Homo sapiens: one gene and its partner. The protein of the gene in region 2 interacts with the protein of the main gene of each other region in a pairwise test. Each region holds a gene or a part of one and is shown on either strand. Other genes may lie near its edges. The genes, in order: TFCP2 and DPH1.

Region 1 (16,352 bases), on a different chromosome or scaffold from region 2:
AAAATTTCATGCTAGGGAAAACAAAAGAAAAAGAAAATTTAACCTGAGAAGTTTGTGAAAAGCCTTGTGAATGTAGAAAAACGATTTCGATGCAACCACTGCTGAGCTTCCTGAGGTGTGGTTGTTGGTAAGAGGTTCTGAAAGGGAGAGCACGTTTTTTAGATAACCAAATAGATTTGTCTGTTACCCCATTAGGTAACACATAGCCAAACACCCCACACAACCCCATACTCAGGCCTAGTTTGTGAAAGTTGTTTTCTCTTTCTCCAACCATGCAAGATGCTCAAGGAGTTCCATCCTTTTCTTCCCCACTAGACTATAAGCTGCTCAAATGGAAAGGTCCTGCATTACTTGTTTCATATCTTTAGTCCCTAGCACAGTATCTGGTTCATAGTCAAAATTCAATAAATGTTTGTTTAATGAATGAATGAATAATACTCCCTAAAAGTTGGGCATTTCTACTGAATTGGACAGTCATCAAAGTATTACCAGACATTGCAAGTAACTGACATTCAACTTTAGACTTACATCTGTGACTGGAGGGGGTGGCTCTGGCTGGTGGTTTGGTGAACCATTTCTAAAGAAACATTTAAAATGAAAGGATGAGTCCATGACACATGCTGGGGCTCATTATTTCATTCCTCAGCTTCACAATAAATCTCATGCTAGAGATTAAAAAAAAATCTGTGCTCTCTCATAACACATTCTTATTCTTTGACCCAATACTTTAATTTTCTATTAGTTTAACCTAAAGACTTTATGAGGAGGGGGAGAAACTATGTCATTAGCAATATTTTCTTATTATTGAGGAAACTGAAGAAAATATCAACATTTCAATAAATTGGGACTGATGAGATAAATTATGGCATAAAAATATTTAACCATAAATTTACTAAGATGAAAAATTATGAAAGAATAATTATCAAGAAAAAAATTTAAAAATAAAATGAAAAATATCAGGATAAAAAATTTTATCAATACATTACTACTGTAGGAAATACATAAATATGCACACATATACAAGAAAAATATTGGAAGAAAATTTATGCAATGCAATATCATCACACAGATTTAAAATAAAAAACAATTTTTTTTTTTTTTTTGAGACGGAGTCTCGCTCTCTTGCCCAGGCCGGAGTGCAGCGGCATGATCTCGGCTCACTGCAACCTCTGCCTCCCGGGTTCATGCCATTCTCCTGCCTCAGCCTACCGAGTAGCTGGGACTACAGGCGCCTGCCACTACACCCGGCTAATTTTTTTATATTTTTAGTAGAGACAGGGTTTCACTGTGTTAGCCAGGATGGTCTCGATCTCCTGACCTTGTGATCCGCCCGCCTCCGCCTCCCAAAGTGCTGGGATTACAGGCGTGAGCCACCGCGCCCGGCAAAAAAAATTATTTTTAAAGTAGCCCCAAAAATTAGTGCTGCCTAATTTATGATCCAAGGGTTATCTCCACACTCCAGTTTTTCTTTTTCTTTTTTTTTTTGAGACGGAGTTTCACTCGTTTGCCCAGGCTGGAGCGCAGTGGCATGATGTCAGCTCACTGCAACCTCTGCCCTCTGGTTTCAAGCGATTCTCCTGCCTCAGCCTCCCAAGTAGCTGGGATTACAGGCGCCCGCCGCCACACCTGGCTAATTTTTTTATTTTTAGTAGAGACGGGGTTTCACCATGTTGGCCAGGCTGGTCTCGAACTCCTGACATCGTAATCTGCCCACCTTGGCTTCCCAAAGTGCTGGGATTGCAGGTGTGAGCCACCGCGCCCAGCCTGTTTTTCTTTATACGTTCTTTGTCTATGAATTGTCCCTCTTCCCTAATGCCTACTTTTATGGAAGAAAAAGTTTAACTAGTATGAAGTACACGACAAAGAGAAGAGAAAAATTTTTAAACACAGCTCTTAAACCCTATATCATATTTGGAATTACCTATAAGTAGAATGTATCATCTATGTGGATGTTAAGATTTTTTTTTCTTTTAAAAAAAGATCTTTTTCCTTTTTTAGCCTTAGCTGCAAAATTCAAATTTGGTATTCGAACTTAGTAATTAACTTATCTTAGGGCCCTACTTATATGTATTCCCTCTACAACTAATACCTACTTTTATTCTTAATTGTTACGTTTTAAATATTTAAGCTACCTTAATTAAATCCTTTAAAAAGTAGGTCAGACATAGAGCCTAAATAAATCCAAAACCACAAACATTGCAACCAAACAATATACTCGCACATTTGGTAGCCTAACTATTTCAAGTTTCAATATGGCTATGTGAAATACATGTTAAATGCTTGGACTATAATACAGCTACTTTTTAAAATTGGAGTAGGCATCTGTACCAACTTTCAATTATCTCTTATGGTAAAAGATAATAAGGCAAGATTAAATGTATCCCATAAATAATTCCAAAACTTCATTTTAGCCATCATCTTCAAACTTATTTCCCCAATTATCAAAGATTCATAATAATTAGGTGTTAGAAGTATTCCTAACAAGTAACAAAACAAATTTTAGTGTTTGTACAATTGTTTCCAGTTCCCAAAGACCACTGTCTGGTGCAAGTATGATCAGGAAATGAAATAACCACAAGATGTGCAGTAATAGGGAGAGGCAAAAAGCCCAGATCATCAGTCCCTGAACCACTAAAAATTGACCATAAATGCTACTTTCTAGTGGGGGGAAAAAAGACGAGGAGGAGGGAGAGGGGAGAACACAAAGAGAAGAAAGGGCTATATAAAACTCTTTCGATCTCTTTTGAAGCTACTCCAAATCTCAGTTAATATATAAATCCATCAAAGAACGACCAAATAGATATACTTATTGATTTAAAAAAGATCTTGTTTATGAACAGGTAATGAAAGAATATATATTTTGGACAAATATAAGCCAATTTTATTTCCCAGACTTACCCTTCCCCAAGAGAAAAACTGCTATGGGAACTGTTGAAGCCAGGTGATGGGGAGTTATTGACATACGTGATCTCGGGCCATGGAGAACACTAAAAACAAAGGATAAGTTAGATAATGAACGAGCACATATGACCCCAGGATTTGACTAAAACATTGTTACTTGAATAGCACATCTTGATTAGTAAATCTTAATTCCTCAGAGACTCCCATAAGCAATAGAGAACACTGCTTCTCTTTCCGCCATCTTGGAGCCTGTGGGGAGGCCTGCTGAGAATAGGACTTCTAAAAAGAAATAAGTCTAGAAAACTACGGTCCCAGGCCATTTTTGTTGGTTATAAGTGGGTTCCAGAACCAAAGGCAGCACACAGCTCTTCCTAAAATTGAAGGTGGTTTATGCCCAAGATGAAACTGAATTCTATTTGGGCAAGAGATGTGCTTATGTATACAAAGCAAAGAACACCACAATAGCTCCTGCAGCAAACCAAACCAAACCAGAGTAATTTGGGGAAAGATAACTTGGACACAGAGACAGTGGCATGGTTCGTGCCAAATTCTAAAGCAATCTTCCTGTTAAGGCCGCTGGACACAGAATCCATGTGATACTGTGTCCCTCAAGGCTTAGGAGAAGTAAATTCTGACCAGTTTGGAAGTGATGAATTTTTAAGATTAAAAATTATGAACTGAAATTGTCACCAAAAGAAATCTTTTTACCTCTGTGAGTATGGTTGTCTCATAGGAAGGCTGATATTTCTCCTTTTCATGAGGTGTTCGTTTCTCCATTTTTTCCCTATCCGTTTTTTGCTTTCTGTCTGCACCTTTGGGCTGAAATGAGAAATATTTTGTTTTAAATTCAGGTACTCACCTTTTAACCCAAAATATTGCTTCCAAAAACTTAAATATTCATGTATGAAACAAAATTGTATGTGCAGTGATGTAAAGGCAAGACACATCACTTTAAGTTTGAAAATAGGAAATTTAAATGTTTATATTCGATGGAGTTGAAAAGAATCAGATCTATAGCTACTGACATGGAAAGATCTCTAAAGCACATAGTTCACTGAAAAAAATCAAGTCTCAAAACATTTCTTTCTTTTTTTTTTGAGACGGAGTCTCATCCTGTCACACAAGCTGGAATGCGGTGGCGAGATCTTGGCTCACTGCAACCTCCGCCTCCAGGGTTCAAATTATTCTCCTGCCTCAGCCTCCCCAGTAGCTGGGACTACAGGCGTCCGCCACCACACCCAGCTAATTTTTTATCTTTAGTAGAGACGGGGTTTCACCATTTTGGTCAGGCTGGTCTTAAACTCCTGACCTTGTGATCCGCCCACCTCGGCCTCCCAAAGTGCTGGGATTACAGGCATGAGCCACCGTGCCTAGCCTCAAAACATTTCAAATAGTATAATCCCATTTATGTGTCAAAGAAAATATGTATATAGCTATGTATGTGTGTGTATAAAAGCATAGGAAGGAACTAGAAGAGCTGGGCGCAGTGGCTCATGCCTGTAATCCCAGCACTTTGGGAGGCCGAGGCAGGCGGATTGCCTGAGGTCAGGAGTTCGAGACCAGCCTGGCCAACATGGCGAAACCCTGTCTCTACTAAAAATACAAAAAATTAGCTGGGCATGGTGGTGTGTGCCTGTAGTCCTAGGTGCTGGGGAGGCTGAGGCGTGAGAACAGCTTGAACCCAGGAGACGGAGGTTGCAGTGAGCTGGCACTGCACCACTGCATTCCAGCCTGGGTGACAGAGTGAAACTCCGACTCAAAAAAAAAAAAGAAGAGGGAAGTAGAAGAACACATACGAAATTATGAAATTATGACAGTGGTTTCCTCTGGGAAGAGGTTGTGGAGGGGGTCAGTGTAAGAGTAGTAAAGGGAGAATTTCAGTGTTGCTATGAATACCTCTGTATTATTCAATCTCTTACAATGAGAACATATTTATTCATGTGATAAAAATAAACAGGACCCTGGCTGGGGCACAGTGGCTTACACCTGTAATCCCAGTACTTTGGGAGGCCAAGGAGGGCAGATAACTTAAGCCCGGGAGTTCAAGGCCAGCCTGGGCAACATGGCAAGACCCCCTCTCTATAAAAAATACAAAAATTAGCCCGGTGTGGTGGCACATGCCTGTAGTCCCACTTACTGGGGAAGCTGAGGCAGGAAGATCAATTGAGCCCAGGAGGTTAAACTATGATTGCGTCACTGCACTCCAGCCTGGGTGACAAAATGAAACCCAGTCTCAAAAATAAATAAATAAATAAATAAGACCAAATAAGAAAAGATCAAGTATGAAAATAACCATAACTAGTCAATTTTTGTGAGCTTTACAAGAGCTTGTAACTTCAATAGGCTTTAAGAGCTTTCAATGAGAATCCATGTTCTTGCCTCTAGCCCTCTTTTCCAAGTTCCTATTATCCTACGACCATGTAAATTTCTTTACCAGGCATCTTGGTAATTATTTCAATGACTCTAGCTTAGACTTTTTGCGTGTGTGTGAGTTTTCAAAAAAAGACAAGTTGATTTTCTGACTTGGTAACTAATGTTAAAATAGAATGATAAGGTAAAAGAATCCAAGGGCCAGCACATTGCCCAGGAATACCTTGAAAACTTTGATCTGGCAGCTGGCCGAGTGTAAGTGCTCAGTATATTCCCCGTTTTCATTCTCCTTGAAGGTATCTATTTGTACTCGGAATGGCACCCCCTTTTCTCCACCATGTTTCCTCATAGTGAACTCTGTGCTAATACAGTGCACCTGAAAAGAATACAACAGCAAGGCTTCAGTACCGCTAGCTAGCCAAACCAGTTGGCAGTATTTTTTTAGCAACTATTAACAGCAAAACCTTTACCAGGCATTATGAATACCTACAAAAAACACTTTTCCTCTTTTTGATCTTGAAGAACTTACAATCTGATAGAGGAAATAGAAAAATGCTTTACAAATGCAAACAAAATAAAAGTACAGATCTAATGCTAACAAAAGCTACTGTGAGGAACTAAATTCATTAACTGCTTCAAAGAACACAGAGCTAGCAAAAGAGAAATGATTTATGTTAGTTAAAGTTTCCTCAATTTTAAGGAAGATTGTAGAAAGAGGAGTCACTACCCAGTCTGGGAACATAGTAAATATGAAAGTTCACAGCAATAGTGGAGAAAAAGGTTTGCTTGGCTACTGCATAAAGTCTAAGATTGGTGAATTTTTTTTTTTTTTTTTTTTGAGACTAAGTTTTGCTCTTGTCACCCAGGCTGGAATGCAATGGCACAATCTCGGCTCACCGCAACCTCCACCTCCCCGGTTCAAGCAATTCTCCTGCCTCAGCCTCCCAAATAGCTGGGATTACAGGCACACACCACCACGCCCTGCTAATTTTTGCATTTTTAGTAGAGACAGGTTTTCGCCATGTTGGCCAGGCTGGTCTCGAACTCCTGACCTCAGGTGATCTGCCTGCCTCGGCCTCCCAAAGTGCTGGGATTACAGGTGTGAGCCACGGCACCCAGCCTGGTGAATCTTAATAGAAGAACCTTGTCTGACTGACTACTCCACAAGATTATAGCTGAAAGTCTTAAAATCATATATATAAAGTGTTTACTTAACATAGTGACTATTTCATGTGAAGTATTAATAAACTAGTGGTTACTATAATTACTACAAATAAGGATTTTCAAGGACTCTACCCAAAGAACATAATCAGATACGCAAATCAAATTTTAAGTATAAATATGTTCAAAATAACATCACAGATAATAGTAAAAAATCAGGCCAATCAAGGCCGGGCATGGTGGCTCACACCTATAATCCCAGCACTTTGGGAGGCCAAGGTGGGTGGGTCACCTGAGGTCAGGAGTTCAAGACCAGCCTGGCTAGCATGGCGAAATCCCACCTCTACCAAAAATACAAAAATTAGCCAGGCATGGTGACATGCGCCTCTAGTCCCAGCTACTGGTGAGGCTGAGGCAAGAGAATCGCTTGAACTGGGAGGCAGAGGTTGTAGTGAGCCGAGATTGCACCACTCCACTCCAGATTGGGAGACAAAGCCTAGACACTGTCCCCCCCCAAAAAAATTATGCCAATCTAACTGCCAAATAATTGTTATGTAAATTATGGTACAACCAAGAAATGAAATATTATGCAGCCATTACCAAGCAATTTTGGGAGACACAAATAAATAAACTGGGGTATTAGAAGAGCAATTCAGAAACTCCTCAATGCTCTCAGGCACAGGTTAAAGAGCCTGGGCTTGACAGTCAGGCTAGAACCCTGTAAAGATTTCAAAGTTAACATGTTTTATCCTTTAAGAAATAAACTGATAGTAAGAGAGATACTCTTCAAAACTGGAACCCTATCTGCAACGCCTTACCTGAATAAACACAGATGTCCTCTTTGCAGGGTCCCACAGGAACTCCACTGTATTTAGTTGAGTTGGATTAGCCCTAGGATCGATTATACCCACAGACATCGGGATATCTGAGAAACAAAATGGTAATCATTGAACAATTTTGAGGGCCACTCAGTTTTAAATAAGAAAGCATTGATTCTTATATTACTCAATGTAGCTACCAAGATTTTTGTATATCACATCCTAAATTTCTTTGTTTTTTTTTTTTGTCGTTGTTGTTGTTTTTTATGGAGTCTTGTTCTGTTGCCCAAGCTGGAGTGCAGTGGTAACAGGCCTGGAGTGCAGTGGCACCATCTCAGCTCACTGCAACCTCTGCCTCCTGGGTTCAAACGATCCTCCTGCCTCTGCCTCCTGAGTAGCTGGGATTACAGGCCCGTGCCACCACGCCCGGCTAATTTTTTTGTATCTTTAGTAGAGATGGGGTTTCACCATGTTGGCCATGCTGCTCTCAAACTCCTGACCTCAGGTTATCCACCCACCTTGGCCTCCTAAAGTGCTGGGATTACAGGCTTGAGCCACTGTGCCCAGCCCACACCTTAAATTTCTTTTTTGTCAATGAAAATATTTGATTAGAGTAAAATTGACTTAAGTACTTTGCTTGAGCACCTTTTTTCCTCTTTAAAAAGTTTTTAAAATACGGCAATTAAAAAAATTATTTGGCCAGGCACGGTGGCTCACACCTGTAATCCCAGCACTTTGGGAGCCCAAGGCAGGCGGATCATGATGTCAGGAGTTCGAGACCAGCCTGACCAACATGACGTAACCTCATCTCTACTAAAAATACAAAAATTAGCCGGCCGTGGTGGCCCACACCTGTAATCCCAGCTACTCAGGAGGCTGAAGCAGGAGAATTGCTTGAACCTGGGAGGTGGAGGTTGCAGTGAGCCGGAGATCGAGCCACTGCACTCCAGCCTGGGTGACAAAGCAAGACTTCATCTCAAAAAAAAAAATTATTTTTAGGCCAGGCGTGGTGGCTTACACCTGTTATCCCAGCACTTTGGGAGGCCAAGGTGAGCGGATCACCTGAAGTCAAGAGTTCAAGACCAGCCTGGCCAACATGGCGAAACCCCGTCTCTACTAAAAAATACAAAAATTAGCCAGGCATGGTAGTGGGCATCTGTAATCCCAGCTACCTGAGAGGCTGAGGCAGAGAGAACTGCTTGAACCAGGGAGGCGGAGGTTGCAGTGAGCCAGTATTGCGCCACTGTGCTCCAGCCTGGGTGACAGAGCAAGACTGTCTCGAAAAACAAAAAAATCATTTTTAAATTGAGAAATAATAATTGTACATATTCATGGGCTATATAGTGATGTTTCAATACATATAATGCATAGTGATCAGATCAGGGTAATCAGCATATTCATTGTCTCAAACATCTGTCATTTCTTTGTGTTGGGAATGTTTAGTATCCTCCTTCTAGCTTAAAATATGGCAATTTAAAGGCAGTTTCCTTTTAATTTGTTAAAATCCTATTTAAGGTGGATTAAGTCTACACTATCATGAAAACTGTAATTTATAATCTATTTCAACTACAGTTTGAAAATTAGTTTCATTGCCAAAAGCACATTAAGAGTATTGCTATTGAAGGGGTGCAGCAGAGTGTCTATATGAAGGTAGAAAGCATTATATCATGAATGAAAGTGGGAAAATTTTAACATAAAGATTGATGCAGGCCAAGCGTGGTGGCTCACGCCTGCAATCCCAGTACTTTGGGAGGCCAAGGCGGGTGGATCATTTGAGGTCAGGAGTTCGAGACCAGCCTGGCCAACATGGTGAAAACTTGTCTCTACTACAAATATAAAAATTAGCTGGGCGTGGTTGTGGATGCCTATAATCCCAGCTACTCAGGAGTCTGAGGCATGAGAATGGCTTGAACCCGGGAGACAGAGGTTGCAGTGAGCCGAGATCATGCCATTGTACTCCAGCCTGGATGACAGAGCAAGACTCTGTCTCAAAAAAAAAAAAAAAAAGATGGTTGATGCTGACTTACCAAGTCATCAAATAATCCTATAACAGAGTGACAAATCTTTACTTAAAAGGGAAGCAAGAATTAATGGGTTTGAGTAGAACTTTTCTTTCCATTCCACACAGCAGATATTCAAATAGCATTCCCTGATTTCTCCTATTAATGATCAAACTGGGGAGTTAAGGCCAGGTAATATGTATTATCAGAACTGTGGTATTAACTATACTACTGTTTTGGTATCAATGATTCAAACAATAGAGCATCAAGTGGGTCCCACTCCACAATATTAGTTGTGTTAGATTCATCTTAAGGTCAACTTATCATACAGATATCAGGATCACTGCATGAGAACCAATGTTTTCTCAGGTAAAATTAGTAGCAGTTAAATTTTTCTTAACAACTATGTTTACCAAAAGGAAATTTTAACCAATTAGAAATCAGAGAGGCAGACACCATGAAAAGTGACTGCATGTGTATTTGTGAAGATCTTTCCTTTATACCCTATGACTTAGGAAAAACAAATTCTACTCTGTGTAGCAACGTGGGAAGACACAACTTAACTGCAAACCAAGTGACATAGCTTCTAATACCAGAACTCCCACTTTATAGTGCCTGGTTCTCAGGCACTAGTAAAATGAAGGAACTTTCAGCATGCTGGGGAAAAAAGTCTGCCCCTCTTTACAAACGCAAAACAAAATATCAGATCCTGAGCAGCCAAAACAATCGTGAAATAGAACAAAGTTGGAGTTCTCATGCTTCACGACTTCCAAACTGACTATAAAGCTACACTTAGCAAAATAGTGAGGTATAGGCATAAAGACAGACATTTAAACAAATGGAATAGAATAGACAGCCTACAAATAAGTATTCAAATATATGGTCAAATGAGTTTTGACAAGGGTGCAAGACCATTCAGTGGGGGAAAGAACAGTCTTTTCAACAAACGGTGTGGAGAAAACTGGGTATCCACATGCAAAAGAATGAAGTTGGGCCCTTCTTTCTGTATATGGTTTACCATACAACCTTTTTTGTATATGGTTGTACCATATACAAACACGAACTCAAAATGGACCTGTGACCTGAATATAAGACCTAAAACTATAAAACTCTTAGGAGAAAACATATGGGAAAAGCTTCTTGGCACTGAATTTGGCAATGATTTCTTGGATGTGGCACCAAAAGCACAGGGAATTAAAAAAAATTAGATAAATTGGACCACCTCAATGTAAAACTTTAGTGCATCAAAGGATAGTATCAACACAGTAAAAAAGCAACCCACACAATAACAGAAAAGATTTGCATGTGATATATCTGCTATGGGGTTAATATCCAGAATATTTTAAAAATTCTTTCAACTCAATAACAAAAAAAACAAAACAATCCAATTCGATAGTGGGCAAAAGACTTGAACAGACATTTCTCCAAAGAAAATATATAAATGATGGGCCGGGAGCCTTGGCTCACACCTGTAATCCCAGCGCTTTGGGAGGCCAAGGCGGGTGGATCACCTGAGGTCAGGAGTTCAAGACCAGCCTGGCCAACATGGCAAAACCCTGTCTCTACTAAAACACAAAAATTAGCTGGGTGTGGTGGCGGGCACCTGTAATCCCAGCTACTCAGGAGGCTGAGGCAGGAAAATCGCTTGAACCCGGGAGGTGGAAGTTGTAGTAAGCCAAGATCATGCCACTGCACTCCAGCCTGGGCGACAGAGGGAGACTCCATCTCAAAAATAAATAAATAAATAAATAAAAATAAAGAAAGAAAGAAAATATATAAATGGCCAATAAGCACATGCAAAGATGCTTGACATCACTTATCACCAGGGAAATGCAAATCAAAACCACAATGAGATACTACTTCACAACCATCAGGATGGATATTATCAAAAAATAGAAAGCAACAGGCCAGGTGTGGTGGCTCACGCTTGTAATCCCAGCACTTTGGGAGGCCGAGGCGGGCAGATCAAGAGGTCAAGAGATTGAGACTACCCTGGCCAACATGGTGAAACCCCGTCTCTACCAAAAATACAAAAATTAGCTAGGTGTGGTGGTGCATGCCTGTAATCCCAGCTACTTGGAGGCTGAGGCAGGAGAATCACTTGAACCTGGGAGGGAGAGGTTGTGGTGAGTTGATATCGCGCCATTGCACTCCAGCCTGGGCAACAAGAGCGAAACTCCATCTCAGGAAAAAAAAAAAAAGGAAAGCAACAAGTGTTGACAAGGATTGGAGAAATTGGAACCTTTTTTTTTTTTTTTTTTTTGAGAGAGTCTCGCTCTGTCACCCAGGCTGGAGTGCAGTGGCGTGGTCTTGGCTCACTGCAAGCTCCGCCTCCCGGGTTCACACCATTCTCCTGCCTCAGCCTCCTGGGTAGCTGGGACTACAGGCGCCCGCCACCACGCCCAGCTAATTTCTTTGTATTTTGAGTGGAGACGGGGTTTCACCATGTTAGCCAGGATGGTCTCGATTTCCTGACCTCATGTTCTGCCCACCTTGGCCTCCCAAAGTTTTGGGATTACAGGCGTGAGCCATCGCGCCCGGCCGAAATTGGAACCTTTGAGTACCGCTGGTAGAAATGTAAAATGTGTAGTCACTGTGGAAAACAATATAGTGGTTTCTAAAAAAAATCTAAGATAGAGTTACCATATGACCCAGCAATTCCATTTCTGGATATGTATCCAAAAGAATTAAAAGCAGAGACTCAAACACATATTTGTACATCCATGTTCATAGCAGCATTATTCACAATAGCCAGGAAATGGAATCAAATTAAGTGCCTATCATGGGATGAATGGATAAACAAAGTGTGATATATACACACAATGGAGTATTATTCAGCCTTGCATGGGAAGGAAATGCTAATGTATGCTATACCATGAACCTTGAAAACATTATGCTAAGTGAAAAATGCCAGTCACAAAAGGACAAATACTGTATGATTTCATTTATGCAGTACTTAGTAGTCCAATTCATAGAGACAGAAAGGAGAATAGTGGTTACCAGGGGCTGTGAAGAAGGGAGAATGGGGAGTTGTTGTTTAACAGGTACAGACTTCTGGTTTTGCAGATGAGAAAAGTTCTGGAGATGGATGATAGTGATGGTTACACAATAATGTGAATGTACCTAATGTTACTGAACTATCCACTTAAAAATGGTTAAAATGATAACTTTTATGTAATGTATATTTTACCACAACTTAAAAAACAACAAAATCAACCTATAGTTGCTATGGAACTAAAGTGTTTACACTTCCAACTTCAATTTTGATATCATTTTAACTTGTATTACTTAAAATTTTTTATGCTTAGTAAATAATTTCAAGGTTTATACTAATTGAGCCTCTCAAGCATATGAATCAAGGTAAATGTCAAATAAAGAAAACCAACTCTGGGTCCATAGCTAAAGGCATTTCCTAGGCAATAGATTCTCTTAACTCACCTATGTCAAGAATTCTGTCTCCAGGTCGGTTCCACCTCCAGCCCTCTAGCTGCTGATGCTCAGTGTACTGAAGCCTTCTGTCATGGAACACCACACGGAATATACTCTAAAAGGATACAACAAAATCAGATGATAACAAGACCTCTTGAAAATCAGTGCTGACAAAGAAAAACTAGCAGGATTCACTGCCAGTTTGTTTCTAAACGCAATCTAAAATTATTTTTCTTAAGATCTGTTTCACTCTAAAACCCATACCATACTAAGTGCTATTTCAGGATAAAATTTTATAATTTCTCAGATATAATCTTTTTTTTTTTTTTTGAAACAGATTTTGCTCTTGTTGCCCAGGTTGGAGTGCAATGGTGTGATCTCGGCTCACCGCAACCTCCACCTCCCGGGTTCAAGGAATTCTCCTGCCTCAGCCTCCTGAGTAGCTGGGATTACAGGCATGTGCTACCACGCCTGACTAATTTTGTATTTTTTGTAGAGACAGGGTTTCTCCATGTTGGTCAGGCTGGTCTCAAACTCCCAACCTCAGGCGACCCGCCCGCCTCAGCCTCTCAAAGTGCTGGGACTATAGGCGTGAGCCACCGGGTCCAGCCAATTTCTCAGATAGAATCTTTATAGTTAACTGGTACCATATTTAAAACTTGGCTTAAACTTCAGTCCGATGGTAACTAGGAATAAAGTACTCCTGTCTGAAGCGTTTCTGCACACCTCTTCTGTTATACCACGGCCTATCTGGCTTAGCTCTTCAGATGTATATGAAAAACTCACCAACTCCCCCGCTTGCTAACCCACCATACAACCTGTAAACACTGAGGGTAGGTAGAGCCTGTTTCCATCAACTTTCCTTTTGTTACTCTTACTTTGTAGAAGTGCCTATTAATTCCTCCCACCACCTTTTGACAAAACTCCTCTGTTTCAACTGTGCTGTGAATTATCAAAATCCTAACTGTTAATCTAGACTAAGAGAACTGCTCTTCATCAAAGTAGCTTCTGTTTTCCTTGCTATAAGACTAAGTATCAAAAAAGACACTGAGGCTTCTCTAAAGATCTCAAGGAGGTTACTTTACTCCACCCAAAAGAACTTCACTGAGCCAGGGGTGATTACCCTGGACAGGGAGTGGTAAGCGTTCTATTTCTGCAGCTCTGAAAAATTCATGTGAATACTGGGGCTTACTCTGACCCCAAAGAAATAACACATCAGCTTACTACTCTGCCAACAAATTACTGCAGGCAAGAGATACCATTAAGCCATTGGAAGCAAAAGAACATTAACAACAACAACAAAATTTAAAATCCCAAAAGGATTAGTAAAAAATATTGTACAGAAGAATGATTTATTCGTTTTACCTTCACCAATTTGCCATTAATTTCTGGAAGTTCTCCAAGTTTCCTATTGTCTAGCATTCGAATTTCATAAGACTGTCCTAGAAGAAAAAGTAATTACATATTATATTCACCACAAATTAACTTTGCTAGATTCGGAAAGAATAAAATTCAGTTGGTTGAATATACAACAGTATAATAATATTATTAGTATTAGTAACAACAATCAGAAGCCTTTACAAGATGCTCAGCACTGTGCTAAGTATTGTCACATTATCTCATTTAACTGATATACTTTTCTAAGGTATTATCAATCCCATTTTACAGACAAAGAAATTGAAACTTAAAAGAGTTTTAGCAACTTGTCCAAGGCCACACAATTGGTAAATAATAGAGCCAGGTAGAGTAATACTTCTCAGACAGTAACCAATGGGAGTGTCTAGGGAATATGATTAGGAAGAGGAAGCTGGACACTAAAAATGGACAGCTAAGCAAAAGAAGCTAGTAATAGATATCAAGTATGACATTAGAACTCAAATCTCTGAAGTAGGACTTCTAGTTTGATAGGCCACACTAGAAAGATCTAAGTTTTTACATATAAGTGTACCTAATAAAACATCATAAATGGCCGGGCACGGTGGCTCACGCCTGTAATCCCAGCACTTTGGGAGGCCAAGGCAGGCGGATCATGAGGTCAGGAGATCGAGACCATCCTGGCTAACACGATGAAACCCTATCTCTACTAAAAATACAAAAAAATTAGCCGGGTGTGGTGGCGGGTGCCTGTGGTCCCAGCTACTCAGGAGGCTGAGGCAGGAGAATGGTGTGAACCCGGGAGGCAGAGCTTGCAGTGAGCCAAGATGGCGCCACTACACTCCAGCCTGGGTGACGCCGTCTCAAAACAAACAAACAAACAAAAAAATCATAAATACAGTAGGTCTGCAATAGTACTAATGAATGAGGAAGCATCTAACCTTGATTGAGATACGTTAGGGTTTCATCATGGAGTTTCACTGCTGGAGAGGTAGCAGCACAAAGCACATATTGAAAAGGCAGGATTTTATTCTCATTATCAGGAGGCAAACTCGACTCTTCTTGCTTAAAAATGGGCAATGCAAGGACATCACTAAAATAAAACAAATGACTCACATTAATACCTGGCAATGGTGCAAACGCAGGTTTATTGCTGAATGATTTAACTGCAATGCTTTGGAAAGCCATAAACATTACTCACCTTGGTGGAGTTTCATCCCAAGAATTCCATTTAGATTACCTGCTGTGATATCCCCCTGACCACAACAGTGTGGGTGATGACAGATATTCACTGCTAAAACCACTAAGTGTTAAAGAGAATGTTTCTAGGAATCATAGACAGGGGTTCCTAAAAGGACTGTGGAAATTATAAACAGAGTTCTAAAATGTATAAATCTAGGACATTCAGTAACGTCTTCATTCTCAGAAAGGCAACAACTATACTATCTATATAACCATATCAGCTGATTTACTATAAGGACTAAAATAACTTCTACAATTCCTTAGAAGCCACGTGAAAAGGACAAATCAATAACGAGTATATATTTCAAGGTCATCTTACATTCTGTGGAATAACAACTAATATTGAGATGTTCCTACAAGCCATTTCCTCTAAGAAAAAGCTTTTTGTATCTATCAGTTTATCTAAACTTGCAAACCAAAGACACATACCCATCCTTTGTCAGTGGGAATGTAAAACCACACTCTCATCCTTTTGTCAGTAGCAATGTACAATGACATAAAACAGTTTAGGAAAAGGTTTGGCAGTTTTTTATAAAATTAAACATGCAGTCAGGCACAGTGGCTCATGCCTGTAATCCCAGCAATTTGGGAGGCCGAGGTGGGCGGATCACCTGAGGTCCGGAGGTGGAAACCCGCCTGACCAACATGGCGAAACCCTGTCTCTACTAAAAATACAAACCTAGCTGGGAGTGGTGGCGCATGCCTGTAATCCCAGCTACTCAAGAGGCTGAGGCAGGAGAACTGCTTGAACCCGGGAGGTGGAGGTTGTAGTGAGCCGAGATGGTGCCACTGCACTCCAGCCTGGGCAACAAAGGCGAAACTCCATCTCAAAAAAAAAAAATTAATTAAAAAAATTAAATTAAATTAACCATGCATCTATTGACCCAGCAATTCCACCCATTGGTACTTATCCAAGAAAAATGAAAATGTAAGTCCACCCAAGACTTGTTATAAATGTTCACAGCATAAAAGCAAAAACTAGGCCAGGTGCTCACGCCTGTAATCCCAGCACTTCGGGAGGCCGAGGCGGGTGGATCACCTGAGGTCAGGAGTTTGA
Region 2 (13,889 bases):
GCAGCCCCCTCCTCTCCGCCCCCTCGGACCACCGCCGCCGCGGCTGCAGCAAAAGGGCGCTCGCACGCACCGCCGAGCTCCGGGGAAAGCGCCCGGCGCGCGTTTGCAGGACCGAGCGATCGGCGGAGCGGGGCGCCTCCCTTCCTCCCCCCGGCTTCCCCCTCCTCTCCTCCTCCCTCCCTCCCTTGCTCTCTAGCTCCCTCCCTCTCGCTCCGCTCCCCGCCCCCGCTCACGGAGCGCCTCCCATACAAAATTTATGAAAGTGCTCTCAGCTCGCAGTGCCGAGCGCCGTCCTATTCCCAAGGCAGCAGCGCTCAGCCGCGCGGCGCCGCCTCCCAAGGTGTTTTCACTGCGCCCGCCCCCGGGGAAGATGCTCGGCCCGCGTCCGTCCAGGCACCTGCCCCCAGTCCCCAAGCCGGTCCTCGGACCACTCCACGCCCCTCCCCGGCCCCGCAGGCCTCCTGGAGCCCGAACCCGCAGCCCAGCCCCCGCCCGCTCGCCCTTCGCGGCTGGAGGTCATCGGGAGACGCGGCTGGGACGCGAGGACCGCCGCCCAGAGTACGGATCGCGAGTCCGCTCCCTGCCCCGTCTCCTCCCTGGCCAGCGCCCCTTCTCCCAGTCTCGACGGCTCTTCCCCGCACTGAACAGCTCCAGCGAACCCGGCTGCCCCGCACCCCGAGTCCCAGGACACTGTTCTTTCGTGGGGAGAGGAGGGGAGCAAGCATTCGGAAAGGGCCAGCTGCAAATTCCAGGGAGAAGGAAGGACCCGTGCGGGTTCGGGTGGGCCGTCTCCGCCTGGGTGGGGTGGCGGCGGGGGGTCTCTGATCTCCCTTGGTCCACACAGACCCCGCCGGGGGGTTCGCGGAAAATGGAGGAGGCGCCGCTTGGAAAGCGGGTCCCGCAGGGGCCTGTTGAGCTGAGGGAAGAGAAGGTTCGGGCCAGGCGAGATCCTGGGTGGAGGCGGCACCCCCTGCTGGCCTGGGATCAGAGGGATTCGGAGAGAAGAAAAAGCGGATGGACCAAGGCTGTCATTCAACACACATTCACCGAAGGCTCAGCATGTGTGGGGCACTACTGTTCCTGAAAATTCAGCAGACGAAAAAGACTTGTCTTTGCCCTGTCCTCAAGGAGTTTCCATTTTAATAGGGGCCAAATGAGGAAAGTCCAGAGAAGATGGGAAGATTGTGCTTCGAAGAAAAACAAGCAGAGTATTGTTCTGGAGCTGACACGGGGGTAGAGGTGGCAGTCAAGGAAAGCTGCTCTGAGCAGGTGACATCCAAGCAGAAATCCAACTGAATCCCTCCTTGTAGGAAAAGGTGACATGATAGGAAGGTCAAAAAGAAGGTCAGGGCCGGGCGCGGTGGCTCACGCCTGTAATCCTAGCACTTTGGGAGGCGGAGGCAGGCAGATCACGAGGTCAGGAGTTCGAGACCACCCTGGCCCGCATGGTGAAACCCGGTCTCTAATAAAAATACAAAAATTAGCCGGGCATGGTGGCAGGCGCCTGTAATCCCAGGTACTCGGGAGGCTGAGGCAGGAGACTCGCTTGAACCCGGGAGGCGGAGGTTGCAGTGAGCCGAGATCGCGCCACTGCACTCCAGCCTGGGTGACAGAGTGAGACTCTGTCTCAAAAAAAAAAAAAAAAAAAGGGCCAGGCTGGGCGCGGTGGCTCACACCTGTAATCCCAGCACTTTGGGAGGCTGAGCAGATCACTTGAGGTCAGGAGTTCGAGACCAGCCTGGCCAAGGTGAAACCCCGTCTCTATTAAAAATACAAAAATTAGCCGAGCGTGGTGGTGTGCGCCTGTAATCCCAGCTACTTGGGAGGCTACGGGAGAATCTCTTGAACACAGGAGATGGAGATTGCAATGAGCCGAGATCACACCACTGCACTCCTGCCTGGGTGACAGAGCGAGACTGTCTCAAAAAAACAAAACAAACAAAAAAAAAGAAGGCCAGTCTGACGTATTCACTCACACCTGCATTTGGTGGCACTGAAGCTTCAGATTTGAGCTAAGGCTCTGGGCTTGGACTTCCAGAAGCTTCAGGTGTCGTGGGAAAAGAAAGACCCGCAAACCATCTTAGAGTGTGACTGACAGAAGTCACAAAGACTGCGAAAGGGCTCTGCTAGCTCTGCCAGGGGCTACCAGATAATCAGGAAACAGTCACAGAAGAGGTGCCCTTGGAGTTAGGTCTTGAAGGCTGAGTTCACCACACTAAGAAGGGGGAAGGGCATTCCACGTAGATGCTTGAAGGTGAGAAGTAACCTTGTTCTGAAGATAGATAAGATTGGTCCTTCCTGAGGACCATGGGCTCACACCTATAATCTCACCACTTTGGAAGGCTGGGGTGGGAGGATTGCTTGAGGCCAGGAGTTTGAGACCAGCCTGGGCAACAGTGTGAGACTCCATCTCTATTTCAAAAAAATGTTTAAAGATAAAAAAAGATGGATGGCTGCTACTCTGGGCACACTGCCCATGGCCACAGGAGCAGTTAAACACGAACAAAAAAAGATTGGTCCCTCTTGGCGTAGAACAGAAGGTGAGGTATTCCTTCTCTTAGCCACCAGCTACAAGGCAGTGCTCACCCCACTGCCTGCCTTAGCCCTGACACTGGGAGCCTGAGAGGTCCTCTGTAAGTACACCGAGGCCCAGAGAGGATGAACAACTTGCTCAACGTCACATCACAGATCAGCGATAAAGTGTGGGCCTGACTCAGGGCCTGAATGTGGGATAATCCTCCTTCCACCTCTCCAAGCCGCCTCCCCATGACCCCCTAGCCCACAAACTCTAGCGTCTTAGGAAAAGTTGGCTGGGGCTGGGCGTGAGTGTGAGAAGCAGAGTTATTTCAGGCCTCAGGAGGGTTGGGTGCTGCCTTGGAGTCCAGCCAGGGAGTGGGGGCGAGTGAAGGCGGGTGTTGTGGTGTACTGTGGGGGTGCACTGTGCCCGCCTTCTTGTCAGGCAGTAATTACTCAGACTGCTGAGTAACTCAGGCAGGGAGACCCCCACAGACAGATGGAGGTGCCCTCAGCCCAAGCTGAATGGCAGCCCCCAATGTCCTGCACCACGGAGTCTTGGGGAAGCATTCTCACATCTGTTCTTCATGTCCAGTTCTCCTAGGCATCATCCGGCTTCCTAATGGGGGCCAGAGCAGCTCATTAGGCACAGCGGGTGCGGGGCAATGTTACTAGAGGGATGGGACTTTTGCCATCAAACAGGCCCCACCTCTGATGAGGGAAAGGTCCCAAGGGATATGGCGCCTGCTAGGGAGAAGCCATTGCTCAGTTGGAGCCAGTCCTTTCCCCTTGAAACTCCATGCTGCAGTCACAGCTAAGGCTGTCCACAGGCTGGGCAGCAGTGTCCTGAGAGAGGAGGGGCTGAGCTCCCAGAATTCAGATCTTGCACCCTGGGGATCCAGAGAAGCTGGGGGGAGATGGGAAGGTCTAGTCCGGACGCTTATCGAGTTGAGGGGAGTGTTCCTGGGACCCACATTGGTCACTTTTCTGTCTAGAGCTACCTGTCCTAAGAGTGCCGGTGGCCTGGGGGGCACAGCACTGACCCTTGGTGATGGTCCCTCAGCTGCTCACTCCCTGCCTGTCCAGCCATTCCTCCTCTCTGGGCAGCCTCCCAGGCAGGGCCTGTCTCTGGCTGCTTGTTTTTACTTCTCCCTGCACCTTAATTAGGGGTTTCCAAGCAGGGAGGGCCTCTGGGGGAGCCCGAGGACACAGAGCTGACTTAAAGGGCCAGCTGTGATCACAGCACCACCGCAGAGAGAGGAGGAGGATGCCAGGGGGCTGGGTAGACCGTCAGACCTGGAAGACCATTGTTCCACGGGACAGACTGCTGAGGGCCAGTCCTGCAGGTACTTTGCTCTTCCACAGGTCAAAGCCGTCTCACTGGCTGTCTTCTCTTTGGGGTCTCTGGGGCTCTGGCCAGTGATCAGGAGAAAGACCAGCCCTGAGGGGCAGGGCAAAGGTTGGCCAGGGTCCAGAAGGGTTAGACATCACAGTCCTCCACTGCCCACCTTCCCAGGAAAGCACCCTCAGGCTGTGGGCCTTCCCCAGAGGGGCAGTTTCTACAGGGTCTACGCAGTGGATTCTAAAGGTGATAAAGGCTGGGTGCAGTGGCTCGCGCCTGTAATCCCAGCACTTTGGGAGGCCAAAGTGGGAGGATTGCTTGAGTCCAGAGGTTCAAGACCAGCCTGAGCAAAATAGTGAAACCTTATCTCTACTAAAAAAAAAAAAAAAAAAAAAAAAAAAAATTAGCTGAACGTACGCCTGTGGTCCCGGGTACTCAGGGGGCTGAGGCAGGAAGATGAATTGAGCCCAGAAGGTTGAGACTGCTGTGAACCATGATCGCACCACTGCACTCCAGCCTGGGCGACAGACCAAGACCCTGTCTCAAAAAAAATAATTTAAAAAGCTGATAAGGGCGATCCACAAACCTGCACCAAGACTCTCAACTTGGAGCTGGGCTGGTGGTCCCTGAGTTCTGTCCTGCCGGACAGTAGAGTCCCCCTAGGTAGGGAACGTGGCCCCACACGGCGGCCGGGTGACCGACCACTGCTTACCAGGAGGGGAGACTGGCAGGGGGGGCTCAAGGAACATCTGGTGGGTGTCCCCTTCACAAGACTCGGCCTGCAGAGTTCGTGCAGGGAGTTCGCACATAGGAGAGCACCGGTCCGGGAGTGCCAGGCTCGTGCCCGGCCGGGGAGAGGAGTGGGAGACTAAGTCGCAGGGCAAGGGCAACTGCATAGTCGGGGACCTCTAGGGAATCCTGAGTCCCGGCATTCTGGGCTGGGGTGGAGCCCACTACAGCCCCGCCCCTATCTCCTCCTTTATGGCCCCGCCCAGCGGGTATCCCCCGCCCCCGCTGGCCGATCGGCGATCGATCGCAATGTCTGCGCTCTCCGCGTTCTTCCAGCGCTGTCTTTTTAGTACCACATGCGCAGGCAGGTGATGGCGGCGCTGGTCGTATCCGGGGCAGCGGAGCAGGGCGGCCGAGACGGCCCTGGCAGAGGTGGGTGCTGGAACGCTGCGCCCTCCAGACCTCGCATCTCGGGGCGGGGCCCCCAAGTTAGGGACAGGACCAACCCCCTTTAACGGCGGCGGCGCCTTTCTCCGCTAGATCCCGCTGTTAGTCGCCTTGGGCCGCTGTCACCAGCTCGGGGTCGCTGTCAGCCGGAGCCCAGGGGTACCAGTCTTTTGCAGCTTTAGGGCACGACCGAGAGCAGCCCTTAATCCTCCAATCGGAAACTACAGCCTTGTCTTGGCGGGTAGACGGATAAAATGGACTCGACGGGGAGGGAAAGGGCCAGGCCAGATGCAGCGGGCATTTTACGAGTGCGCCCTCAGGGAATGCTTTCAGGGAAGAGGCAAAAGGTTTCATTCGCCAGGCATTAACTGAGCGCCCACCGAATGCCAGGCCTGCGCTGGGTGCAGGTACTAGAATCAGAGATCTCAGTCTACTGGGGGAATGTTAATGTAAACATATCATAGCCACGTGATAAAGGAGGAGGTGCCTACTGGTCCCTGGGACACATTGAAGGGCTAATGTTAGCAGTTCCTTACACGCCAGCGACCACTAGGGACCTGTCAGAGGAGGATCTGTAATGGGCCTAGGAAGCCTAGGCTGATTGTCCAAGGCTTTTGAAACAACTGGCCAAAAACCATAGCAGTGGTAACGTTCAAATCTGATCTCAGGGCCCCAGCCTCCGCTGGACCATCCCCACCGCCGCCCACACAGTGGGTGAAGCCTCATGTCTGGGCGGGTCCCTCCTATCATAGTGTGGGGCCCTAGCAGAAGTTGTGGCACATAGCACAGTCTCAATACATATTCGTTGAATAAGTTAATTTCTTGCCTTTTCATATCCTCAGACTCTGTGGCTCCTGAAGAGATAACGGGGTTGAACTAAGCTTAATTGTCGGGGCAGGGCATAGTGGCTTACACCTTTAGTCTGAGCACTTTGGGAGGCTAAGGAGGATTGTGTGAGCCCAGGAATTCCACACCAGTCTGGGAAACATAGGGGGACCCTGTATGCACAAAAAAATAAAAAATAGCCGTGCGTGGCCGGGCACGGTGGCTTACACCTGTAATCCCAGCACTCTGGGAGGCTGAGGCGGGCGGATTACCTGAGGTCAGGAGTTTGAGACCAGCCTGGCCAACATGGTGGAAACCCTGTCTCTACTAAAAATACAAAAATTAGCCGCGTGTGGTAGCACACGCCTGTAATCCCAGCTACTCGGGAGGCTGAGGCAGGAGAATTGCTTGAGTCCGAGAGGCTGAGGTTGCAGTGAGCCGAGATTGCACCACTGCACTCCAGCCTGGCCAACAGACAGAGTGAGACTCTGTCTCAAAAAAAAAAAAAAAAAAAAAAATTAGCCCTGCGTCTTGGCACATGCCTGTGGTCCTAGCTACTGGGGAGGCTGAGGTGGGAGGATTATCGTTTGAGCCCAGGACGTCGAGGCCGCAGTGGACCATGATTGCACCCCTGCACTCCAGCCTGGGTGATGGAGTGAGACCCTGCCTTAAAAAATAATAAGATGAATTGTTTATTCAGCTTATTATTTTTTATCCTACTTAGGAGTAGGATGAGACCAGAGTAAGAGTTGCAGTTTGCTAAGGGCTACGGTTTCCCCTTTACTCCAGGAGTTGTAATTATGTGTATACCTGTCTTTTCCCCCACTAGACTGCTGGTCTCTAAGGGACAAGGTCACTTTTCTGTCCTTACTGGTACGTCCACCACCCTGACTCAAGTGTTCTTTCCATCCTTCCTGGTTTAAGAGTAAGGAGGAGCAATGGGACAGCTAAGTCAGTTAAATGTATGATGTTTATTTCCCTTTTAAATGAGGAGAGGTAAGCGTGAAAGAACGAACAGTGTGGCCACAGTCAGTGGGGTTCTGAGTCAGGAGGGCAGTCTTTTAAGTTAGTATTCATGTTTAACGGTTTGCTTATAGACCTCATATCTAGAAGCTCAAAACTTCAAGGTGTCCTCAGGAGGTGGGAGAGGGGGGACATTCTCCCAGGCTGGCTGGGCTGGCTAGACTGACTCTTAGGTTTTCCGCAGGGCTGTTCTCTATCAGGGAGCAGTATATGGACTCAGACTCATTCTTTGCCCCTTAGCCCCTGGTGTCACCTCTGTTCTCCTGAGGAAGAAGGTGAGCCATATTCTATTCATGGGCTCAAGTCTTCGATTCCCAGTGATTTCACAACATGGAAATTATACCGGTTACCTTCTGGCTTAATGAATTGTCTCTACCTTCAGGATGAATTCAGTGAGAACGAAAGCTGGGCCAACCCCCTTGGTGTCTGGATCTGGCCCTTAAACTTGGTGGAGTTAACAGCTTAGCTGGGTCTTGTTACCAAACTCAACTTGGGTCTTCCCATCCACACAAAGCAAAAGCCAAACACTGACATGGAGATTTGCAGGGAGAGAACAAGCATTTATTGTAAGGCACCAAGCAGGGAGACTGGGCAGCTAAAGCTTAAGACCTAAACTTCCTGATGGCTTACAAGCAAAGGGTTTTTATTTTATTTATTTATTTATTTTTGAGATGGTGTCTCGCTCTGTTGCCCAGGCTGGAGTGCAGCGGCGTGATCTCGGCTCACTGCAAGCTCCGCCTCCCGGGTTCACCCCATTCTCCTGCCTTAGCTGGGACTACAGGTGCCTGCCACCAGGCCCGGCTAATTTTTTGTATTTTTAGTAGAGAGTAGTATTTCCCCGTGTTAGCCAGGATGGTCTCGATCTCCTGATCTCGTGATCCGCCCGCCTCAGCCTCCCAAAGTGCTGGGATTACAGGCGTGAGCCACTGCGCCCGGCTGCAGAGGGTTTTTAAAGGCTGGGCTTCTGGGGATCTTTAAAGTGAATTAAGGGCTGGGGAATTTCTGGAACTTTCTTACCTATTTTCTGGCTTCAGTCTGTCTGAGGTCTTACATGACAGCAATTAGTTGGCATTTTTCACCTGGTGGGGGGGTGGGTGTCCTGGTTTCTGAAAAACAACTTAGGGATATATGTCAAGGTGTTATGTGTAGTTTCTATAGGGAACCAGGCATCTCGTGACTCTGACTTGGGTGACTGTTGTTTATTATCTTCTTGTTTAGCAAGTTATTTAATTCCCTAATTGCTGGTTGTAGGGCTAGCTAAGATGCCTGGGATTTTTCTTGAGATGACTCAAAATTTTTATTTCTATGCTTGAGCGGGGGCACCGGCAGGCCCTGAAAAGGGATCCCTATTCCATCTCAATCTGGCTTCAGCCAAAGACAGACACCAACTCAGGCCTTATATCCATTCTAGGTCGGGCCCCTCGGGGCCGCGTGGCCAATCAGATCCCCCCTGAGATCCTGAAGAACCCTCAGCTGCAGGCAGCAATCCGGGTCCTGCCTTCCAACTACAACTTTGAGATCCCCAAGACCATCTGGAGGATCCAACAAGCCCAGGCCAAGAAGGGTGAGCCTGTGATCATTGAGCTGGGGTTGGGGTGGAGAGGTTGCCTGGCCCAGATGGGACAGTGTCCCCCTTGCAGCCCCTTCCTAGCCCTCCACCTCTCATGTCTCTGCTCGTCTTGCAGTGGCCTTGCAAATGCCGGAAGGCCTCCTCCTCTTTGCCTGTACCATTGTGGATATCTTGGAAAGGTGAGGCTTGGGGCACTGGAGAGGAGGGTGAGCCAGGCTTCCCCCACCCCCTATGCTCATTACCCGGGTGGGTAAAGCCCTGGTGGCGGGCATTTTTTCCTTCTGAACCTCCACCTTCCCCCTTTCCCTCCCACAACCATACACACACTCAGGGAAAACCCAAAACAAATCTCCCAGCTTGCTGAGAGCCCTGCTTGTCCCTGCAAATCCCCCCTCCCCTAAACATTTGGGACAGAGAAAGAAATCAATCCCAGTGTCTTCAAAGCTAGACCCAGAGCAGGTGGTAGGACCTGGGGAGGACCCTAAGAATTCTCCAAGCTGCCCCTGAAATGCGCTGAGTGATCAGTGGGAGGTCTGCCGGTCGGGGGCGGTGGGGGGCACCTGTTCCTCGGGCACATTTGGGGAAGTAGGGCAAGGATGGGTTTGGAGTGGGAGGTGCCTGGGAGAAGGTATTCAGTTCCTCTACATCCTACCCCTGTCACTCTAAGTTTCTGCAATACAATGAGCCATCCTTGGTGGGGAGGGTGAGAGCTCAGCCATCTGGAACCAGCACAGGAACAGGGGAGGGGAACGAAGAAAGGGGAGGTCATCTCATGCTGGGAACCTCCCACTCCCCTGCTGCCCCATCGCCCTCCCCTGCTCCTCCCTCCCCCTCCCCTTCTCCCCCATCCCCCTCCCCTGCTCCCCCATCCCCTGCTGCCCCATCCCCCTCCCCTGCTGCCACCCTCCCTCCCCTGCTCCCCCAAACCTCTCTTCTCCCCCCTTCCCCTCCCCTGCTCCCCCTCTCTCCCCTCCCCTTCCCCCTCCCCTGCTCCCCCTCCCCTCCCCTGCTCCCCATCCCCCTCCCCAGTTTCCCCATCCCCTCCCCTGCTGCCCCATTCCCCTCCCCTACTCCCCCTTCCCCCTCCCCTGCTCCCCCCTCCCCTGCTGCCCCCTCCCCTCCTCCCCCACTCCCCTGCTGCCCCATCCCCCTCCCCTGCTGCTGCCCCATCCCCCTCCCCTGCTGCTGCCCTCCCTCCCCTGCTGCCCCATCTTGTTGCCACAGACTCACTTCCCTGCTCCCACCGTCTTGCCCCTTGGGGATGCTCTCTGGGGCTCAGGCCAATTTGCATACATTTTAATCTATAAAAAATTAAGTGCTGTGGCTGACTTAGACGCCTGGGCTGCATTCTAAGGAGGTGAATAATCTGCTTCTGGGCACAGCCTGATTTGGGGAAGGGGGTGGAGGAGGGGGTGACTAGCAGGAGCTCAACTCTTCCACTGCCACACCCCCAGGGGAAGGATGGGGGGACCCCAGTCACTGAGCCAGGCTCCACGCCCCAAGTGTGAGTCTCTTTCAAGGAAGAGGGGGTTCTCCTCCATTCCTAGGGTGAGTTCAGGGGTACAAGGTCTTCCCCACCCACCCCCTCCCCCAGTGATTCAGGCCTGGCAGCAGTTCCCACGGCAGTGTTCTGGCCAGAGCCTCCTCTTCCTGATGCAGGAGGCGTGTAGGTGGTGCCATGTGCTATGGGGGAGCTGTGCCTGGGTCCCCCCATCCTGGGCACCAAGGGCCCTGCCTGCGGTGGGGAGGTAGTGGGGGTCCGGACGAGAGGGCCCTGCCTGTGGTGGGGAGGTAGTGGGGGTCCGGGTGAGGGGGCCCTGCCTGTGGTGGGGAGGGGGTGGGGGCCCTGCCTGTGGTGGGGAGGGAGTGGGGGTCCCGGCAAGAGGGAGGCTGTGTGTATTCATACAGCCACGCCCATGCCCACCACAGCACTCAGCGCGGGAGTGAGGACCTTTGGGTGTGTGTGCGTGCTCACGGCTCTGGGTGGGTGAGTCAGGGCATGGGGCGTCTGTGTTTTGACCCCACGTGTGCCGGAGTGAGGGTTGGGGTCCCTCCTGCAGCCTGAGCCTGGGTAGAGGAATGAGGGTCCTCACGCAGCAACAGTTCCAGGAGCGGCTGCCAGGCTGGGGCAGGCGGCAGCTGTGCCCCTCCTAATCTTTGTTGGCAGAAGTGGCAGCTGCCATCCCGAGGAACTGGGAGAGGTAGGGAGAGAGGAGCTGGGCCCTGAGACACCCTCCCAGGGTTGGGTCTCTCCTACCTCAGTCCCTGTGTCCCTGTCCCACCGTTCCCCGCCCCTGTGCCCGCAGGTTCACGGAGGCCGAAGTGATGGTGATGGGTGACGTGACCTACGGGGCTTGCTGTGTGGATGACTTCACAGCGAGGGCCCTGGGAGCTGACTTCTTGGTGCACTACGGCCACAGTTGCCTGAGTATGGTGGGGCCAGGACACCTGGACGGTGGCGGGGCTGGCAGGGAGGCAGGCTGCACATTCATCTTCCCCATGGCAGTGCCTTCTTGTCCTGCTTGGAGACACAAGGTCCCTCCTGGTTTCTGGGGTGGCCTCTGCCTTCCCGCTCTGCAGGTAGATCTTTCCTTTGGATTTGGTTGCCTTGGCAACGGTGCTCTGTCCCAGATGCAGGTGTTTGAAAGGCTGTTGGTTGTAGAGCAGGCTGGGCCCCGGCCGGGTGACAGAGAAGTCTGATTGAGAAGGAGCTTCTAGGGGATCTGTGACCCCCCTCTTCTCCTACCCTGTCCTTTTACCCCCAGGCTGAAGCCACTGCGCCTGGCTGCTCAGAGACCTGAGCCTGGCCGGGCCCTCTGCTGCTCCTGCCTTCCCAAACAGCCCCTGAACTCCTCCCTCCCACAGTTCCCATGGACACCTCGGCCCAAGACTTCCGGGTGCTGTACGTCTTTGTGGACATCCGGATAGACACTACACACCTCCTGGACTCTCTCCGCCTCACCTTTCCCCCAGCCACTGCCCTTGCCCTGGTCAGCACCATTCAGTTTGTGTCGACCTTGCAGGTGGGTGGAACGAGGATCCTCGGCCTCCTGCAGGGTGGACAGCGGCCACTCTCCAGCTGTTGCGGGATCCCCAGGTGCTCCAGGCTGTTTCTCAGCCCTGGCTCTCCTGCCCCAGCCGCTGGCTTCACTTCCCTCGTCATTCCTACAGGCAGCCGCCCAGGAGCTGAAAGCCGAGTATCGTGTGAGTGTCCCACAGTGCAAGCCCCTGTCCCCTGGAGAGATCCTGGGCTGCACATCCCCCCGACTGTCCAAAGAGGTGGAGGCCGTTGTGTAAGTTAAAAATGGGGGCCAAGTAAGTCCTAGAGACATGCGTGTACCCTGGGAGGGAGCCTGAGGTTCATCATCCAGGAAAGAAACCAAATCTAATGCTCCTTACCTGTGAGCCCGAGGTCACACTGCAAGGTAGGGACCAAACAGGGAGCAGACCTCAGGTTTACTGTCGCTTTCTCCACTGCCCAGTCCATCATCCAGAAGGCTGTGCAGGGTGGGGGCAGGAATCAGAGGGCCTGATGGGGGTTGAGGGTGGGCTGGAAATGGTGGGAATATAATTGGAGAAGATGGATGGGCACGCCCAGGCTGCAGCCCCATTAATTTACCATCCGGACAGCTAACAAGCAGAAGCAGCGTGTCTCCTGCCGCCTAATTATTTTAGGTAATGGAAATGCTTAATGTTGTGTGAATGCAGCCAGCCTGAGAGCCGACGGCTCCCCCGACTGGGACTAGGGAAGGGAGTCCCGTTCCGTACTAATGGCAGGGAGGGAGGGTCGCTCCCTGACTCAGTCCCACCTCTGGGGCTTTGGAGGCTGTTTCCACAGGCCTGACACCCCTGTCCCTAGACAGGCCCACATCAGGGCCTTCCCCAGCCCAGATCTGGCAGCCCTGCTCCCCGAGCAGCACTGAGTGGCATTCCCCCTGTGCCCACGTCACTCAGTCTCTACCCTTGGGGTCTTCAAAGTGTATGTTGGAGGGAGGGACACCCTGAGTGTTAGCCATTCATCAGAATGAAGTGTGGTCTCCAAGAGGGAGAGAAGGAGCTGCCACAGGCAGGTTATCTTCCACGCTCTGTAATCTTCATGGGCTGGGAAGCTACTGTCAGGGACAGCATGTCTGGGGGCACACTTGGTACAGCCTGGGTTGAGCCTCAGACACACTGCTTCCTAGCTGTTTAATACTAGGCGAGTTTCTTAACATCCCTGAGCCTCAGTTGTTACCTTCTGTAAAACAGGTATACTATACGTATCTGGGAGGATTAGGAGATAGGACTGCGTGAACTAATTCACAGCAGGTACTTAGTCTATGCCTGGTACACAGAAGGCACAAGTCCAATAAACAGTAGCTGTTGGCCGGGCACAGTGGCTCACGCCTGTAATCTCAACACTTTGGGAGGCCAAGGCAGGAGAATTGCATATGTCCAGGAGTTTGAGACCAGCTTGGGGAATATAATGAAACCCTGTTCTCTCCAAAAAAAAAAAAAAAAAAAAAAAAAAGAATTAGCTGGGTACAGTGTCCATGCCTGTAGTCCCAGCTCCTCAGGAGGCTTAGGTGAGAGGATCGCTTGAGCCTGGGAGGTTGAGGCTGCAGCGAGCCATGACCGAGTCACTCAACCTGGGTGACAGAGTAAGACCCTGCCTCAAAAAAACAAAATGAAAATCCGGTAGCTTTTGTTATAACTCAGTAACTGGCCCCAAGAGCTAGTTTGGGCAGAAAGTAGCCATTGTATGCCCTGCAACCTCATGTACAGCATAGATCAGAGGTCCCCAACCCCTGGTCCCATGTCCTGTTAGGAAACCTGCCGCACAGTAGAAGGTGAGGGGTGGGCCAGCCAGCGTGACCACCTGAGCTCCGCCTCCTGTCAGATCCGCCGCGGCATTAGATTCTTGTAGGAGCTCAAACCCTATCGTGACCTGTACATGCGAGGGATCTAGGTTGCATGATCTTTATGAGATCCTAATGCCTGATGATCTGAGGTGAGACAGTTTCATCCTGAAACCATCCCCCAATCCCACCCGTGTCTTCCACAAAACCTGTTCCCAGTGCCAAAAATATTGGTTACTGCTGGCGTAGATGACTCCTTGAACACTACTGTCCACATCTGTATTGAGCTTGTGAAGGAGAATCTGTTCCCCAACTTCCAAATGAGGATCTCTAGAACCCCAGGTGGCCTCACCACGGCCGGCTGCTCCTTCACTCTTCCTCAGAAGCTTGGGGTGGGACGGTTCTTAGATTCTGCATTATGTAAATAGAGGGACCGTAGAGTCATCCAATTCAAACTCCTTATTTCACACGTGAGAAAACCAAGGCTCCAAGAGGTGAAGTGAAGGCTTGTCCCAGTTTACACAGAGGCACAGCACAGCCAGCTGTGAACTCAGTCCTCTGGACTTTTTTTTTTTTTTGAGACAGAGTCTTGTTCTGTCGC

The links.
Region 1: the proteins of DPH1 (region 2) and TFCP2 interact in binary tests that used the Homo sapiens proteins (3 or more experiments, as listed by UniProt).

Annotation. Positions count from the first base shown.
Region 1 is NC_000012.12:51,103,627-51,119,978, forward strand, and holds part of TFCP2 (alpha-globin transcription factor CP2), read right to left. Parts: intron 15,147-16,352; coding exon 14,995-15,146; intron 14,122-14,994; coding exon 14,045-14,121; intron 12,795-14,044; coding exon 12,689-12,794; intron 7,358-12,688; coding exon 7,251-7,357; intron 5,648-7,250; coding exon 5,495-5,647; intron 3,721-5,494; coding exon 3,610-3,720; intron 2,988-3,609; coding exon 2,899-2,987; intron 578-2,898; coding exon 529-577; intron 138-528; coding exon 44-137; intron 1-43.
Region 2 is NC_000017.11:2,025,214-2,039,102, forward strand, and holds the start of DPH1 (2-(3-amino-3-carboxypropyl)histidine synthase subunit 1), read left to right. Parts: upstream 1-4,939; 5' UTR 4,940-4,941; coding exon of another isoform or gene 4,942-4,956; coding exon 4,957-5,017; intron 5,018-8,291; coding exon 8,292-8,444; intron 8,445-8,565; coding exon 8,566-8,629; intron 8,630-10,756; coding exon 10,757-10,878; intron 10,879-11,315; coding exon 11,316-11,473; intron 11,474-11,621; coding exon 11,622-11,743; exon of another isoform or gene 11,744-12,125; intron 12,126-13,889. UniProt on the Homo sapiens protein: Catalyzes the first step of diphthamide biosynthesis, a post-translational modification of histidine which occurs in elongation factor 2.